Regions from separate parts of the Homo sapiens genome. Here region 1 is reported to be linked to region 2. Evidence: microRNA targets listed by miRTarBase, many of them from high-throughput screens and not tested one by one. Region 2 holds a microRNA gene; the other region holds the end of a gene's coding sequence.
What was found. The annotated mature microRNA hsa-miR-4529-3p reads AUUGGACUGCUGAUGGCCCGU and lies in region 2 at 2,924-2,944, opposite strand. An mRNA with a match to its seed (bases 2 to 7 or 8) in the 3' UTR can be bound and repressed. Matches are read on the target gene's strand: a 7mer-m8 pairs with bases 2 to 8, a 7mer-A1 pairs with bases 2 to 7 and ends in A, and an 8mer does both.

Region 1: the mRNA of REPIN1 is a reported target of hsa-miR-4529-3p. The part of its 3' UTR that is shown has no 7-base or 8-base seed match.

Annotation. Positions count from the first base shown.
Region 1 is chr7:150,371,207-150,381,598 of GRCh38, reverse strand. REPIN1 (replication initiator 1) reads right to left here. Exons shown (of 3, transcript NM_001099695.2): 3 at 7,560-10,371. The coding sequence ends at 8,654. It overlaps ZNF775 (zinc finger protein 775), which reads right to left and starts at 2,269. Exons shown (of 3, transcript NM_173680.4): 1 at 2,207-2,269. REPIN1-AS1 (REPIN1 antisense RNA 1) reads left to right here and starts at 8,656. Exons shown (of 4, transcript NR_183429.1): 1 at 8,656-8,758. ZNF775-AS1 (ZNF775 antisense RNA 1) reads left to right here. Exons shown (of 2, transcript NR_183445.1): 2 at 1,411-1,754. RefSeq lists enhancers at 1,051-1,110, 3,121-3,280, 7,932-8,081, 8,142-8,261 and a silencer at 1,901-2,710.
Region 2 is chr18:55,475,214-55,482,213 of GRCh38, reverse strand. It overlaps MIR4529 (microRNA 4529), which reads right to left and starts at 2,993; the gene lies at 2,916-2,993. The region is part of intron 3 of TCF4 (transcription factor 4); the gene reads left to right. All of the region lies in intron 1 of TCF4-AS1 (TCF4 antisense RNA 1), which reads right to left.

The DNA.
Region 1 (10,392 bases), not on the chromosome of region 2:
GGTACAGAATTGTTATATCAAGTGGGGCGGGGGCGGTGGGGGGTGGGGATGGCGGGACGCAAACAGTGTGAGAGGACTCTGAGAGACATTCCCAAGGTGCAAGACAAATTCGATTTAGGTCGTTGCTGTTGCCATCACCCGCTCCCCACTCAGGGTTATAAGAACTGTACCTCAGGGTATGAACAGCCAGCCTGGTTTCATGGCTTCAGTTTGCTCCCCTCGACATTCCCAGGAGACCTGATCTGCATGCAAGCAGGTCACTTGCCTTATCCACTATGCCTGCCCACCTCCCAGAGGTCCCCAATTCAACCCCAGCCATGATCCTGAGGTACCTCCTTCCAAGACTTCCTTCACCGGCCAGAGGTAAACACGCTTGCTGGAACTGTCCCACCCACACCTCCCCTGCGCCACACCCCTGGCCCCCTCCTCCTCACCCACCTCCCTTCAGAGGCGAGAGCTGCACTTACATTCCTCGGCCCCAATTCTAATATTCAGGAACCTGTCAGGGCCTGCATCTGAGCTGAAGGCCGAGGATAAACCCAGCTGCTAACAATCTCTGAAGAGGTGTCACATTTTAATTAATAAACACGTTTGCATCCCTTGCTGCATTCAAAGGACCTTGGGAAAGCAAAGTGAGATGGAGCAGGGACCCCTTCAGGCACCTGCTGTGCCCTCCAATCATGAAAATAAAGGAAAATCTTGAGTTCTTTCCAGGGAAATTCCAGGCACCTAGCTGGTCCTGAGAAGTAAATGTGCAACCTGATAAGAAGGTAATCGTAGCTAAAATAATAGCAAGGAAGTCAGACCACACGAAACGTGTGGTTGCCTAAAGAAACTAAAGGTAACATCTTAGCATATGTCCTTGAGTTGTTTTTCAGAAACCCAGACCCCCACCAAATGGACTTGCTGGCACGCACACCTCGGATAAGAGGGAACTGAGAACTCAACTCTGCTCATCTTTCCCCATTGCACCCCGACACGCCCCATCCTCTCGTGGCTCTTGAACTCACCGTGTCCTCGCACCCTGTGACCAACCTTGGAAGGCCCTTGCTCAGTTCTCCCCTTCCCAGCCCAGATTAGGGATCGCTTTGACCAGGAAGCCTTTTTGGACACACCAGGCACAGCCAGGAATCCCTTCTCTGTTTAACCTGTGCACCTAGGACCATCTACATGGAATCATCATTGTCATCAATTTGTTAGTCTGCACAAGACTACATGCATCTTAACACAGGGTCCTTCTCTCTCCCCTGCACCCAGTACAGGCTCCACACACAGTAATCCATTAATAAAAACTGTCATAAGGGAACACTTAAATAAAAGAAATTTCAGTACAAAACAGATTTGAAGCACGGAAGCATGAACCTTCAAGCTGAAAGGAGACAACTGCCATCTAATCTCTTCATTTTACAGATGAACATGGGAACAGTTAGCTGTGAAGCCTTGGGCTGTCGTCCGCCTCCAACCCCTGGGGCTCTGACCACACCCAGCCCCAGCTCAGATCATCTTGCTCAAAGGGCCGAAGGAGGACCCATCTCCACACCTTCCACATGTAGATATCCTCAACGTTCTTCACAGAGGGGATGCCCGCACCCCGCCCCACCGAGTTCGCGGCTGCTGTGCCCATCTTCCTAGAGAGGAGTTCTCCGCCACACCCGACACCACACACTTCCAACTTCTGCGGTGCTTCCCTCTCACTTATCTCCACCCCCAATCCTTATCCCCGCTCGTTTAATCACACATTTATTGGTCACCTACTATGTGTCTGTCACTCTGCAGCGAGCATTGGGGTTCCTGCCCCCAGAAACTGATCTATCAGGGAGGCGAACAGGGACGGGGAACTCGGAACAACGGGACAGCCCAGGAGAGACCGCCCGCGGGCGACCCCTCTACTCGCCACCGCGTCCTCCCTCCATTCTCACTAGCCTCCCTCCTAACCTCGCTGCCCTGGCCTGGCGCCCTCCCCACCCTCGGCCGCGCCCCTTTCCCCTCGGCTGTGTCGGGGCAGAGGGAACGCTTGAGACCCGGGGCTCGGGGGGCGCGCGGGGCTCGGGGCACCCCAGGCCCCCGCCCCATCCCTCCGCCCCAGCCCGGGCCGGGCGGAGGCAGCACGGGAGGAGCGGGGCCGGGCGCTGGTCCATCCCTCGCACCGCCCCTCCCCGCCCAAAATGCAGAGGGACTCGGAGGGAGGCGACGGGGAAATAAATACCTTTGACTTTGTGGCTAAGGTTAACGGGAACTGCCACCCCGAGGGCGACTTGGGCACCGGGCTCCCGGCCCTGGCCATTCCCGGGGCAGGCGGGGCGGGCACGGGTGCCTGATTGGCTGGCGGGCCTGGCCATCCCCGGGGCCGCCCAGCCACTCCATTGGCTGCGCCGCTCAGATGACCCGCCCGGCCCTATCGGAGCAGCCCGCGGGGCGGCTCCTTTGTTCTCTGGAGCCAATAGCCGAGGGGGGAGGGCTGACCTCGCCCCCGGCGGGCGCGCAAGGCCCGGGCGCCGTGAGCGCGCTAGCCGCCGGCCGCGGGGAGGAGACCTTGGGAGGTCGGGCCCCAGATGGCCGGCGGCGTCCTGGCACCCCTGCCAGGCCTGGACTCCGCGTGCGACCCCGTTGTAACGCCTGAACTCAGCGCACGTTCGCCGAGCGCCACAGCGCGCCGGACGCTGTTTCTCCCTGCTGGGGACCCATCAGGGCCCGGACAGAAACCCCGGCTGAGGCTGTGGCTGCCCTCAAGCCGCGATAGCCCCACCGTGGGGTGTGATAACTTTTAGGGTTCACTACGAGGGACCTTAGAAATCATTATACCCGACCCCTTCGTTTTCTGTTTCAGGGAGGTGGTCTCGCTCAGACCCCAGTGGCGCGATCATGGCTCAGTGCAACCTCGAACCCGTGGCTCAACCGAACCTCCCAACCTGCTAACTTTTTAAATATTTTGTAGAGATGGGGGTCTCGCCATGTTGCCCAGGCTGGTCTCGAACTCTTGAGCTTAAGTGACCCTGCGGCCTCGGCCTCCCAAAGTGCTGGGATTACAAACCCGCGCCCGGCCTAATCCCTTTGTTTTCTAGCTGAGGAACGGCTCTGAGGTTACGTTACTAGGTCGGGTTACTAGGTAGGGTTCCCGTGAGCGGAATCATCTCCGCCCAGTTGCCACCCCGGTCCAGACTGCCAGACCTTCAGGAAGGAGTATCTTCGCAACTCCCCACCCCATTGTAAGGAAATTCCTCACACTTCTCCCTCAAAGGGGGCGCAGCTGGGTCAACTCCCACTGGCAGGATGCTCTCCGGAGCTGCTAGAAGCTGCCTCTGGGGCATGAGGTAGATACAGACAGAAGCTGGGCCTCTGAGACTCTACAAACGGTTGCTGTTGGGCAGGCGGACCTTATTTTCTTCAGTCAACAGCTGATTAAACATTTGCCACAGGCCCGGCTGCGGTTTAGCCTCAGTAGCACAGCAGGAACTGGGGACTGAGATTCGATTTTGTCACTAACTTCATGTGTACTTTTTATAAAAGATACTTTTCTGTTTCTGGACTTTGACTTATTCGTCTATAAAATAGGGTTAATAATTTTCTAGTTGCCTGCATACCTTACTGAGTTTTTACCGTTAATTTGGTTATATTATCTATAGAAGGATTTGTAAAATACAAAATCATACACACCCTATAAAGAGGCCACACATCACTAGCTATCAACACTTTGGAGTCTCATTCTCCTGTTTATTTTTTTAAAGACGGGGTCTTGCTATGTTTCCCAGGTTAAAGTACAGTGGCTATTCACAGGCACAATCATAACGCACTTCAGCCTCAAACTCCTGGCCTCAAGGGATCCTCCCACCTGAACTACACCTGAGACTACTGGCATGCACCACCACACCTAGCTTATTTTCTAGAAGAGTACCTAGAAGAGGTTCTACGAAGGCTTGTGGAATACATTCCTGTTGCTGAGACCAGTATTCTAGTTCCAGATTTGCCACTGGCTACAAGTGTTGAGACAGAGCAGGAACCTCTCTTAGGGGTCTGCCACCAGCCCCCCATTCAATGCACGAAAATAAAGAAACATTTGAGTCCCTTCAAGGGAAATTCCAGGCACCTAGCTAGCCCTGCAACCAGCAATTAGGGAAGTGAATGAATGACCTGCTAAGCAAGAAAGTAGTAATAGTTTAAACAATAGTACCCAAATAAGAGTCACAAAACGTTAGCTTCCTTATAGAAACTGAAGATGACATCTTGACATATGTCCTTGAGTTGTTTTTCAGAAATTAGGACCCCCACCGGTGGGGGTCACTTCCACTCTCTGGGCCTGTTTCCTTCTTACAGAGCAGACTTCCTCCAGATTGGCATCCCATGACCAAGGGTATTTCAGAGGTGGAAAGAATGGAGAACCTCTGGGATCCTATTTCCACTAAGAAAAAAAATACCAGGGGGAGAGGCTGCATATGTGTTTGCAAATACACAGGAAAAAAGTGTTAGGAGAATACTCCTCAAACTTTTCTCAGTGTAAACAAAAAGGATTTTGAGAGTGGAATAGGGGAATGAAGGAGAACGTTCACATTATTATCTGAATTATTTATTTTTAAAGATAATTTAATGCTTTTGTAATTGTAGAAGAAAACAAAGAAAAACTGTGGATTCTTCAGAAGAGATGGGCAGCTCCTGCCAGCAGACCCCTACAACCCAGGCAGTCCTCCCCAGTGACTGCTGTGGTGATGAACCAGGCAGAGCAAGGGCTTGAGAACCACTGGGCCACCCACCAAGGGACTCAGGAAGGAACCAGGCACAATTTGACTCTGTTCCTGCTTTACCAGCCCCCTCAAGGCCACTTGTGTGACCTTTCCGTCCTTTGGACCTCTCTTTCCCATCCCCATAACAAGCAGTGGGCAGTGAAGCACTGACGACACCCACACCCCGCTTTCCCCATATCCCAGACTATTTCCTTTAAACGGGACTTTTCAAAAGGTTAGGACCCCTGGTCAGATCCCCTCTCACCCTCATCCTTGTCCCTAACGGCTCCAATACTAACCTAGGTGCCAACCCAAGGACCCGCCCCTGCTCCCTGCCCATCATTTCCAGACATCGACCTACTCTTTCCTGGCCATCTCCCCTTCCCTGGAAACCCTGTGTTCCCACAAAGAGAAAAAATGTGACTGGGGCTTTCTTGAGACCACGCCCTCTGCTCCCAGGCTTTGACAGATAATTTGCCATCAACTACACAGGTTTTTAAGTGGCTCCATAACCCCATAAACCAATATGAAGCTTTGAAGCTGTTCTTTCCATCCTACACACTTTAAGCCCCACCCACACAGTTGGCATTTAATACTTAACCAAAAACAGCAGCACGCAGCGTTCATCCACTAAGCACACAGCGGTTGTCAAGAGCACAGGTTTCAGGAGTCAGACAGACTTGAATTTGAATCTGCCTCTGGTGATTACCAGTTATATGACTGTGGGCAAATGTTTTCATGTATAAAAGAAGACTACCTCCCACACAAGGACACATGAGATAATTTAGGTAAACTTCACCAGGTGCCACTCACGTCAACAAATTGTGGTTATTCTTATGTGCTCTGTGCTAAATGCTGGAGATATATGCAGAAATTGCTAACACAGGCAAGAAAAGAACTATTAATGCCTGGTAAAAAGAGGTACTCAAATTTGTATGAAACCACCAATTCAGGGACGCATACAGAGTGACTGCTCACAGAAATCTGGAGTCCTACAGCAGGCCGGCCAGGGACACTGTAGGACAGAATCAAATCAGCCCCCTTTCCTGCCTAGCAACTAGCACCTGAAAAGTCTGACCTGACCTTGAGATGGAGCAGAGACCCTCTTTTTTAATTTTTTTTTATTTTTATTTTTTGAGACAGAGTTGTTGCCCAGGCTGGGGTGCCATGGCGCGATCTCGGCTCACTGCAACTTCTGCCTCCTGGGTTCAAGTGATTCTCCTGCCTCAGCCTGCCGAGTAGCTGGGATTACAGGCATGCACCACCATGCCCGGCTAATTTTGTATTTTTAGTAGAGACAGGGTTTCTCCATGTTGGTCAGGCTGGTCTCAAACTCCTAACCTCAGGTGATCCACCTGCCTCGGCCTCCCAAAGTGCTGGGATTACAGGCGTGAGCCACCACGCCCAGCCTCAGAGACTCCACTTAGGAGCCTGCTGGGTTCTGCCCATCACTTGAAAAGCATGAGAATAAACAAAAATGTGAGTCCCTCCCAGGGAAATTCCAGGCACCTAGCTAGCTCTACAACCATGAATTGGGGAAATGAATGAATAACCCGCTAAGCAAGAAAGTAATAATAGCTTAAACAATAGTCACTCAAGTAGTAGTCACAGAATGTTAGCTTCCTCATAGAAACTAAAGATAACATCTTTTTGTTTGTTTTGTTTTTTGGGTTGTTTGTTTGTTTTGAGACAAAGTCTTACTCTGTTGCCCAGGCTGGAATGCAGTGGCACGATCTCAGCTCATTGCAACCTCCGCCTCCCAGGTTCAAGCAATTCTCCTGCTTCAGCCTCCCTAGTAGCTGGGACTACAGGGGCCCGCCACCACACCCAGCTAATTTTGTATTTTTAGTAGAGATGGGGTTTCACCATGTTGGCCAGGCTGGTCTTGAACTCCTGACCTCAGGTGATCCACCCACCTCGGCCTCCCAAAGTGCCGGGATTACAGGCATGAGCCACCATGCCTGGCCTAAAGATAACATCTTGACATATATCCTTGAGTTGTTTTTCAGGAGCCAGGACCCCCACCAATGTCACCACGTGACAATGCCAGCACGTAGACCTCAGACAGACTGGAACCAGAAAATGGATAAGGAAGTTCCAGAAATTCCTCAGCCCCTAACTCCCTTTGAAACCTCCCCACCCCTGCCTTAAAAACCCTTGCTTAAAAGCCATCAGGGAGTTTGAGCCTTAGCTGCCCATTCTCCTCGCCTGGTGCTCTGCAATAAACGCCTTACTTTCTCTGGCTGCAAATCTCACTGTCGGTGTTAGGCTTTGCAAACACTGGGCAAGTGGACCCAGGCTGGGTTTGACAACAACCTCAAAGAAGGCTGAAACCCTGGTGTGTGGAGTGTGGAAGCTGAGTGCTGTCTTAGCTGCAGGGAACAGCCTCCCCTCCCAGAGGCTCCTTCATCTGTCCAACCTCTGAAGGACTACTGGAGGCACAGTCCAAGTATAACCAAAGTCCGTTTAACACCCAGCACCCCTCAAAAGAGCTCATAGTGCTTGCTGTAGTTTCATAAAGGCCCAGGTGGTGAGAAAGATTAGGTGTTGCTGGGCCCATCTAGGAGGGCAAGTGACCAAGAACATAAATCTTGGGACCAAGCTGAGAGCATTCCACCCACCACAGTTCTCTGGAGCTTCGGCCCACCACCCAGAGAATTAGCCCAACTGCCTGGGTATGCTCAGGGAAGAACTGAGGCAGGGGGCCAGAGCTCAGCAAGCTGGGCATGTGGCCTGTGGCCAGAGCCCCACCCACAGCCCCCCGTCCTTCTAGGGAGGAGAGCATGCTGCTCCTCCTGACATGTCGCAGCTCCCCCAGAAAAAGTAACACTCCCCAGCCACCAGTTCTAAAACCAAATCTTTATTCTCTAGTTTGAAAAGGAGGGGTAAATGGTTGTTCTGTTTAGTTCCAGAGAACAGAACAAGGCCCAATAGGTAGAAATTATAGGAAAGCAGAATTCATTCATTATAAGGAAGGATTTCTAACAATTAGAATTTCTAACAATTAGAATCATCCAGGGCCTCAGGAGGTGCGGAAGTTCCTGTCACCTAAGTGCTCAAGCAGAGGCCAGGTGTCCATATGCTAGAAATGGAGAAAAGGAAACTCACCAGCAACTTCCCCTCAGCTGGCCCTCCATCACCAATGCGGCAGTCCTTGCCGTGACATGCTGAGCTCTGGAAGGAGCGAAGGAGGGGCTGCGGTGTTCAGACAAGAGCCTGGACACAGTGCTGCTGACAGCCAGGGGAGGCTCTCAGCGCTGGGAGGGGCGACAGATAAAGCGAGACAGACCAAGGAGTAAATGCCTTGGGATCTGCTCTTTGGGAAGGAAGAGGATGGAAGTATTAACAGCAGACGGGTCTCTCCAAGTCTGGGTGCCTACGCAGGGGGCAGGTGGGAGGGGAAGGGAGAGGTAAGAGTGGCTTCGCTTCACCTCTTGCTGCTGGCAAAGGCCCAAGTGCTGTCTAACAAGGCCAGCAGGTTCTCCAAGCTGTATCTAGCCCAGAGCATTCATTTACAGGACTCTACCACGCCTGCTTCCAAAAATGATCTTAAGTAACTTACAGTAAAAGACAGGGGCATTAAGGCGTTAATACCAGAGGATGGAGGGTCTTCCTTTCCACTGGTGGCTCCTCTAGCCAGAGGGCTCTAAGGGGCGGATGCTATTGCTGCTTTTCCAGGGCACAGGGCAGTCAGGACGGAGCCTTAGCACACACCAGCTGGAGGCCGGCGTCCCTGCGCTTGGAAGTGGGTTCCCTGGCCACCGGGGTTGACCTCTCTCGCTAGCAGGGCCCACCCAGCTCACTCCCCGCGTCTTCCATCCCCTCTAGGATTCCCATTGTCCCCTACTCCAGCACTAGGCAGGCACCCCCAGCCCACTGCGACTCCCACCACGAAGGACCCCAGCCCTCTCTCAGCCAACACGGCCCCGCCCACCGTCTCAGACATCGTGCTTCTTCTGGTGGGCCAGGAGTCTCTCCTCGTCGTCGAAGGTCTGGCCACAGATGGCACAGCAGAAGGCGCCGTCCCGGATGTGGCTCTTGCGGTGGGTGATGAGGTTGGACTTCTGGCTGAAGCTGCGGTCGCAGTCGGGACAGGCGTAGGGCCGCTCGCCCGTGTGGATGCGCCGGTGCGACACCAGGTTGGACTTCTGGCTGAAGGCTTTGCCGCAGTCGGGGCAGACGTAGGGCTTCTCGCCGGTGTGGATGCGCCGGTGCGCCGCCAGGTAGGGTTTGTGGCGGAAGGCCTTGCCGCAGTCGGGACACACGAAGGGCCGATCGGGGGCGTGGTCGCGCCGATGCGCCGCCAGATGGCTGCCCTGGGAGAAGCGGCGGCCGCACTCCTCGCAGGCGAAGGGCCGCTCGCCGGAGTGCACGCGCGAGTGCGCCACCAGGTGCGTCTTCTTGCCGAAGTTCTTCCCGCACTCGGCGCAGGTGAAGGGCCGCTCCCCGGTGTGCTGCCGCTGGTGGGCCCGCAGGAAGCGCTCCAGCCGGAAGCTCCTGCCGCAGTCGTCGCAGCTGTAGAGGGAGGGGGGGGCTTCGATCGGGTCCTGCGGGTGCTCTGGCGGGGCCCCTGGCGGCGGCTCCTGGGCCGGTTTCAGAGGTACCGCCGGGGTGGGCTCGGCCGCGGACTCCTGGGGGCCGGCTGGCAGCTGGGGGCTCCCCGGGCCGGGGGCGGCCTGGGCCGACCCCTCGGATCGCTTGTGAATCTTGCTGTGAGACAGCAGGTTGGGTTTGTGCCGGAAGCGGCGGCCGCACTCTTTGCACGGGTAGGGCTTCTCGCCGGTGTGGATGCGCCGGTGCGAAGTCAGATAGGGCTTATTGGTAAAGCGCTTCCCGCACTCGGGGCACTGGTGGGGCCGCTCGCCCGTGTGCACGCGGCGGTGAGCGATCAAGTTGGGCTTGTGCCGGAAGCGCTTGCCACAACAGGCACACTGGAAGGGGCGGTCGACGGCATCTCCACCGGGCCGGGGGGCGGTCACCGCGGGGCGGCCCCTGGGCCGGGGCCCCAGAGCCTTGGCTGCGGCCTCCTCCAGGGCCTCAGCTACGTGCACCCGCTTGTGGGCAACTAGCTGGTCCCACTGGGCAAAGCTCCGGCCACAGTTGCCGCATATGAAGGGCCGGGCCTCCGGGGCGGGAGGGTGGCACCGCCGCAGATGAGCTCGAAGCTGCTTTCGTCGCCAGAAGCGTCTCTCGCATTTGGGACAAGCGATGGGCCGCTTTGCAGCTGAATGGGCCCGCAGATGCAGAACCAGGGCCACCCAGCCTCGGAAGCTCTGCCCACAGAGGTGGCAGGCAAAGCCCAGGTCTGGGGTGGCAGCAGCATGGACCTGGCGGTGCAGTGCTAAGAAGGGGGCATGGCGAAAGCGACGGCCACACTCAGGGCAGGGCAAGGGCAGCCGGGCCTGGCACCGGCGGGTGTGAAGCCACAGAGCCACCCAGCCAGGGAAGTGCCTTCGACAGTGGGCACAGCGATGGGCCCTGCCTGGGGCTTGGGCACCAGACTGGGCCACTGACGTGCCTTGTTGCCTCAGCCCGCGGGACTCCTTCCCCAGGGTCTGGGGTGACTCCTGGGAGGGCCCAGAAAGGAGTCGGGGCTGGGCCAGGCCCATGGCCAGGGGGCCCCTGCAACGACGTTCCAGCATCGGTTCTTCCTCTGCTGAGGGTGGAAAAGCACAGT
Region 2 (7,000 bases):
TCTGGAATCCTATGACCATGAGAGAAGCCTGCTTTAGGGTGAAGTTGACATGGAAGTGTCAGAGGTGAGGGGTACAAAGAACCATTTTGTCCTTGCTAATATAGTAGATCCACTGTATCTCAGATTGCACCTGATACCTGTTGAAGTTTTCAGGCTTTTCTCACCCCTAGGCCCTTCTCCAATCCTGATGCTAGCTGTTGACAACAGTCATTATTAAATAAATATCAGAAACCTCATCTGAATTCAAGGAATCTCCCAGCTCTTTCTAAACCCATACTTGCTCATTGTAACTGTAGCTCAGGCCAAGATGGAATAGACTACCTTGGTGAGGACAGGTGTATGAAGAATCACTGATTTAAAGATTGTTCATAACGTATCGCAGTCATTAGGCATAAGTCTATTTCTTGAGACATTGTAAGGGATTATTCTTGGAAGGACATAGGTCCAAAATGTTGAATTGGACGTCTAGGAGTCAGGGTGGTAAAAATGAAGTATATATTGATTAAGTGGAGAGTTACATGAGTAGAGAAGCAAAATGAAGCCGAGTAGAAAATTAAAGGTTTTGGGAGGAGTACTGCCTGAATTTAGATGTTTTTAAAGTACAGCTTTCTGTCTTCATGGGAATATCTTTTCGATATACTGAGAAAAAGAAATCCAGGTGTTCTTCACTTTTGTAAGCATCCTGGTTTTTCGTGCAGGGAGCACAGACAACAGGATTTCTTGCCAATCAGTTACCATTGTGAGGCCTGATTTTTCATCTGTAAAATGAGGATAATACAGTCTACCTGAGTAATGGCTGTGAAAGTTAAATGAAGCAATTTGAGTACAAATACCTCACAATGAATGATTGTTTTCATTGATGTGGTGGTAAATGTTTAATAACCTCTTTTTCAAAGAATAAAAGCCGTTATTGGTCATTTTTGCCAATTTCCATGGTGTAAATACTTCCAACATTGTGCCAGTTCCGAGTTACCAGTGTGTTACAAAATTGAAATGGAGTTAGAGAAATACACATATAATGCCGGAGAGCTCACCAGGATGCCACTGCTTTCTTTCCTTCTTTCCAAATTACATACATCCCAGATTTTTTTTTTTTTTTTTTTTTTTTTTGAGATGGAGTCTTGCTCTGTTGCCCAGGTTGGAGTGCAGTGGCACAGTCTTGGCTCACTGCAGCCTCCGCCTTCCATGTTCAAGTGATTCTCCTGCCTCAGCCTCCCAAGTAGCTAGGATTACAGGTGCCTGCCACCACGCCCAGCAATTTTTTGTATTTTTAGTAGAGACAGAGTTTTACCATATTGCCTAGGCTGGTCTCAAACTCCTGGCCTCAAGTGATACACCCTCCTCAGCCTCCCGAAGTGTTGGGATTACAGGCGTGAGCCACTGCACCCGGCCCATAAGCCACCACGCCTGGCCTATGCCAGATTTTGTACAAAGTAAAATCAATCCTTGTCCCCCACCACTGTGATACTAGGGTTTGTTTGATTTTAGTGACATCTGTATTAGGGTTGACACAGAATTAATAACTGAATCAATAAAGAGACCGGGAACAGGGCCACGCCTTACACAAGGTGACATGAAAAATGTTGAGGTGTAGCAGTTTATTCCCTTAGGTTAATCATGAACCTTTCTGTTAGGCCCCTTTGAAATTTAGTATCACTCTGTCCTAAATCACCAGTACCTTGCAAGTGTTGATTCTAGCCCATATAACTCACCTTTCTCAAAAATTCTGCTATGTTTGTTTTAGTAACCAAATACTGTATTTTATTTTCGTAAGATTTTCTTCCCAATCTAGATTATATATTTCAGAGAGAAAGCGTCCTATTTTATGTACATTTTGTATCCTTTTGGTGTCAAATATCATGCTATGACCATAACAGTAAGTGTAATACACATAATATCCTCCCCCCGCCCCCCCGCTTTTTTTTTTTTTTTTTTTTGGAGTTCCTACTGTGTTCCAGGTTCCATGGTAACATTTTCCTTGTTATCTGTAATCATCACAACAGTACTGGAGGGTAAATACGGTCATTCCCATTTTACAGATGAGGATACATTCAATGTGAGATGTTAAAGATGTTCTTCAGAATTTCCCAGGTAGCAGGCAGCTCATGGTATTCAAAAGGTAATGGTTAAGAGAAAGAATGGATAATGAATATCTTGTGTCTATTTTCTTGAGACAGACGAGACTGAGCAGCCTGAGAACATTTGGTGCTCAGAGGGAGGAAATGCTAAGAGGGGAAAACAAGTCTGAAAGGGAAAGAAGGATAGTTCAAAGACCAGTTTCCCCTGCTTCAGAATTCTGACTGGTGCCAGCTCTAACTGCGTATGTTTGCTTTACTTGGAAGATAGAATCATAGTGCCAGAATTCACGGAAGTCTGTTTTGGAAGATGCATTAGTCAGGGTATGCTAATTGCTGGAACAAACAATCCCCAAACTTCAGTAGCTTAACACTGCAGAGGGTTATTACCCTCCGGTGTCACAGAGCAACGTGGGTGGGCTCTGGTCCTAGCCTGGCTTCTTCCATGGCTCAGGTCTGCTATCCCCTAGGACCTTGGAGTTCACTAGATATTGGCATCAGGCTGATCAAAGAGGAAAAGGAGAGTGGTGCATAGACGATTACATGGGAAATTTTAAGGGCCAGGTCTGGACAAGGCAAGTATTACTTCTGCTCACATTTTATTGGCCAAATCCTAGTCATATGATCCCATGACTGCAAAGGAAGATGGGGAATTTCAGATTCCTAGGTGGTCACGGGCAGAAAGAGATGGGGATTGGTGAAAACATAGCCTGGCTTTAGCCACAGAGGGTTACACCAGAGGCCTGCAAGTTTGGTGACCACTAGTTTTCAGAGGTATTGGGTATTTGATAAAATCCAGTGTCTTCCAGAGGTTGAGCATGAGCCACATATAAATAACTTTCCCAGTGACGGGCCATCAGCAGTCCAATGAAGACATTGGGTCTTCATGTCTTCATTGGACTGCTGATGGCCTGTCATTGGGGAAGTTATTTACCTTCTCTGAGGAGAAAATAATAACTTGCATTTCAGAGTGGTTTGGGACACTAAAGGAAATCAGAAGATGGAACTGATTTGTTAACTAGAAATGGACATAAGTATTGGTTACAGGTTTAAAATGAAACTTGCAATGTTTGAGGAAGAAAGGGAAAATGTTAATGCAAAAACAAAAAAGGTAAAGAAATGGTGGGAAGTAGATTATTGGCACTTTTTCTTTGGAAACCCATTGCCATATTTCATGTAATTAAACTTCATTCCTTTTAATGAAACAATTCTTCTAAATAATACAGAGATTTCCCACCAATATAATATTTAACATTTATAATTTTCACCTTAAAGTTTGAACATTTTTAATTTTAAAACTGTTTGTTGCAGTTTAAATCTCCTTATGCCACAGAACTGTGGACTTTCTCTGGTTGCAAAATTCTTTACAGTGTCTTGAATTGAAAAGGGCTTAAGTAAAAAAAGCTGGGGGAAGTGGGGGCCTTTTACAAACAAATTACAACTCATTTGGTACAATAAGGATAATTCATTTTGTCTTGTTTTGCATGGCTGTATATTGTTTTGAATTCATTCTGCATTTCGGAAGCTTGCAGTATTTCTTTTCTGTAGGTTTCTTACTTGTAACTGCAGATTTCGCGGTTTCTTTTGTGTACCACTTGCCTCCCAGAATTTGGCCCAACAGTTTTGAGTAGCTGAACAATTTATCGGGGACAGATCAGCTGAAATGTGGCTCAACTTGAGTAAAGCAGAAGGAATGACATAAGGTTAGGTGACTGATGTGTGAGTTTTTGAATTTGATTTGGTTTTACATGGAAAGGTTGAAGCAATGATCCATGTATTCTAATAAAAATCATCAGTACAAATCAAATAAAATCTGGCTTAGTGGCTATTTTCCCACTGTATCACTCATGGCTAGCCTGTGCTGTTACAGACCACATTTGGCAGGCACGGCTTTTTCCTACAACAAATCTTAAAGTAACATTGCAATCTTTGCTGTGTTAAAAAGGCATCTTTTCTAATCAAACTGTCTGCTAATCTCATCAGATAAATCATTATTCTCTACTGACAGCTCCGGCTTTCCCGGAACCCCTTCCCTGCTTCTTGTTTTCTCTCAAGATGTCTGGTTATCGTCATTCTTCAGGTCTTTGCCTCTATCTCCTTTCACACTAATGACATATCTTCCATTCCTGAGGAAGAGTTACAGCTTTTTACCATTCCACTTACTGAATTGGTAAGACCAGTACCTCAGAGCAGCTCATCTCTTTCTGACCGGTATTCCACTAGTTATCAGATGGGCAAAAGGCAGGATGCATCCAAGTTGCAGACCTACTAGAACCAAAAATGCCTATTCCCAGGAATTTGATGTGATTAAACCTAAGAAATCATCAGTTGATGCGTTCTCATCTCTTTCAGCTGGACTAGTAAAGTAAGGCAGATGTATTTTCACTACTTCAGTAGTGAACATGTTTTATAGAACCTGAAAGTGAAAGTAAGGGAAGCAGCATGGTTTAGAGGAAACCTTGGTCCATTTTTCCGTCATAGACCTGTCCTGCTAGCAAAGTCCTGGGCGTTTCTTAAACTGATGGCAACTGCGTGTGCCCTGGTGGTGAAATGGTGTTGCAGTATGCCTGGGCACTGCCCTGTGAAAAAGGACACACAGAGGGGAGACTCACAGTTTTGTTTTCATTGCTGACATGGTTTAAAAATGTACGTTGCTAGCTGTGAAAACTCAGTCATTATAACACCGTACACCTTTCTTCTTTCAGCAAGTATTCCTTGTGAACATTAGCAAGTATTCTATTCTCTGTTAGAATTAAACAGGTAATCGTAATAGCATGAAAGGGTGAAAGTATGTCTTATGCAAAATAGCCTCTTTTATATAGGGCATCTACCAATTTTCTTGTGATTTTTGTTTTTTCCTCTTTTGAAAAATGATTTTAGTCTGCTCGTGTTTAGGTAGGTAACTTCTCTTGATCCCAATTTTATACTTTAAATGATCCCAGATATTGCATTTTAAATGAGATGAGTATATAAAAAATAGGAAGCAGAAAGCATAATTAAAAATTGTGGTTACATTATCGTGAGACCAAATGACCAGTCAGACTCCTCTGACCAATTTCATAGAAAATAAGGAGGTATCATTTGAACAAGTTGTAACATATGGGAACTGTTTTAAACACCATCATTGATATCAAGAAACTATTAGGAAATGCAAGTTTGTGTATCGTGTGTGTGTGTATGCTGATTTTACACACACAGGCACATGCACACACATGCACACACACATTTATAAGCCCAAGTAAGAGAAACCTTTGCCAATGTCTGCCAGGCATTTGGCTGAAGTGGAATTGTGAGGAACATTTTCTCAGCCTTTATAAATCACAGTTGAAATATGTCAGCACTGTTCAGTTTATAAAATGACAAGGGCTGTAGGCTGGGCATGGTGGCTCACGCCTATAATCCCAGCATTTTGGGAGGCTGAGGTGGGAGGATTGCCTGAGCCCAGGAGTCGGAGATCAACCTGAGCAACATAGTGAGACCCTGTCTCTACAAAAAATTCACTGGGTGTGGTGGTGTGTGCCTGTGGTCCCAGCTACTCAGGAGGGTGAGGTGGGAGGATTGCTTGAGTCTGGGAGGTTGAGGTTGCAGCGAGCCCTGATCGCACCACTGCACTACATATACCCTAGATGAAGAGCAGGACCCCATCTCAAAAAAAAACAAAAACAAAAAACAAAAAACAAAAAAACAACGAGGGCTTCATCTAAAGGTTAAAGGGACTGTTTCTACCTTATATTGATTATAACAAGTTAACTCACTCAATATTGTATGGTATGCTTATGCTGTATTGAATGGCAAAGTTCCTCTCACAGTCTTTTTTGGGGTCACCCTTCACTCTTCACTTTGTGAGGTGGCTAGTTCATTTGTATACCTGCTCTCTAAATGTGGGAATATATTCTTTTAAAAGTGGCAACTCAACTTATCTCCCCCTTCTAAAATATTTTAGATGTTTCCAATTTTTTTTTTTGTACGTCAGCCCATGGAAACCACACTAAATTTTTCTGTGTCATGAGTATGCTTGTCTCTGCATTTGAATTTAATTGGGAAGTGCCTCTGAAATGGCAGGTCTCCTTTTTACACAGTGGTTTACAGAATGTGGTGGGAGGAGGCACCAAATAGCCTGTTAGGATAGCATGGCTCCAAAACTGATTCTTTAACTTGCCTTTATACATTGCATTAATTCACAAGTGGATCAGTCCATCTTGTCTTCATCTTGGCCAAATTCCTTCAAAATTAATAGTAAAATATGCCTAAATATATTCTTGTTCCTGCCCTCCCCACTCCCACCTAGGTCACAGGGCTACAACTAATCATTGTCTCCATTGAAATGTCACTAGATGATCAACGATTGAAGAATATTTCTTACCAATTCAAATAGAACAGAAACTTCAGTCAAGTTTAGCATTTATTGCCCTACATTTCTGCGGCTGTCAAAACCAGTTGATCAGAGACGTGAAGATATGTAAGGAAATAGGAAGCTGTGATGGGTTATCGCTTGTCTAAGAGTGGTACAAGTGAGACTTGAGGGCATTATCACTTTTTACCTTATACATTTTTGTATTTTAATTTTTTTCAATAAGCACATACTTAAAAATTAGTTTGAATGTTCTTAACGAATCTTTCCATAGGTTACTGATTAGTTCAACAGGGACAAATTATAATCATACATTGCAGAATTTGCATGCCACTTTGACCAGGTGATCAAAATTGGCATAGCACATGAGGGGCAGACCAACATGCCATCAAGGGGCTCTGGAAGTGATGTCCTGGGAAGGACACCAGACCACTATTGTAGTATTATATCCACTGGAATATAATCATGAGGAAGCATCTGATCCTCCCAAATTGAGAAACATTTCCATAAAATAACTGGCCTGTATTCTTCCAAAATTCTAATATCACAGAAGGAAAAGGCTGAGGAATTATGT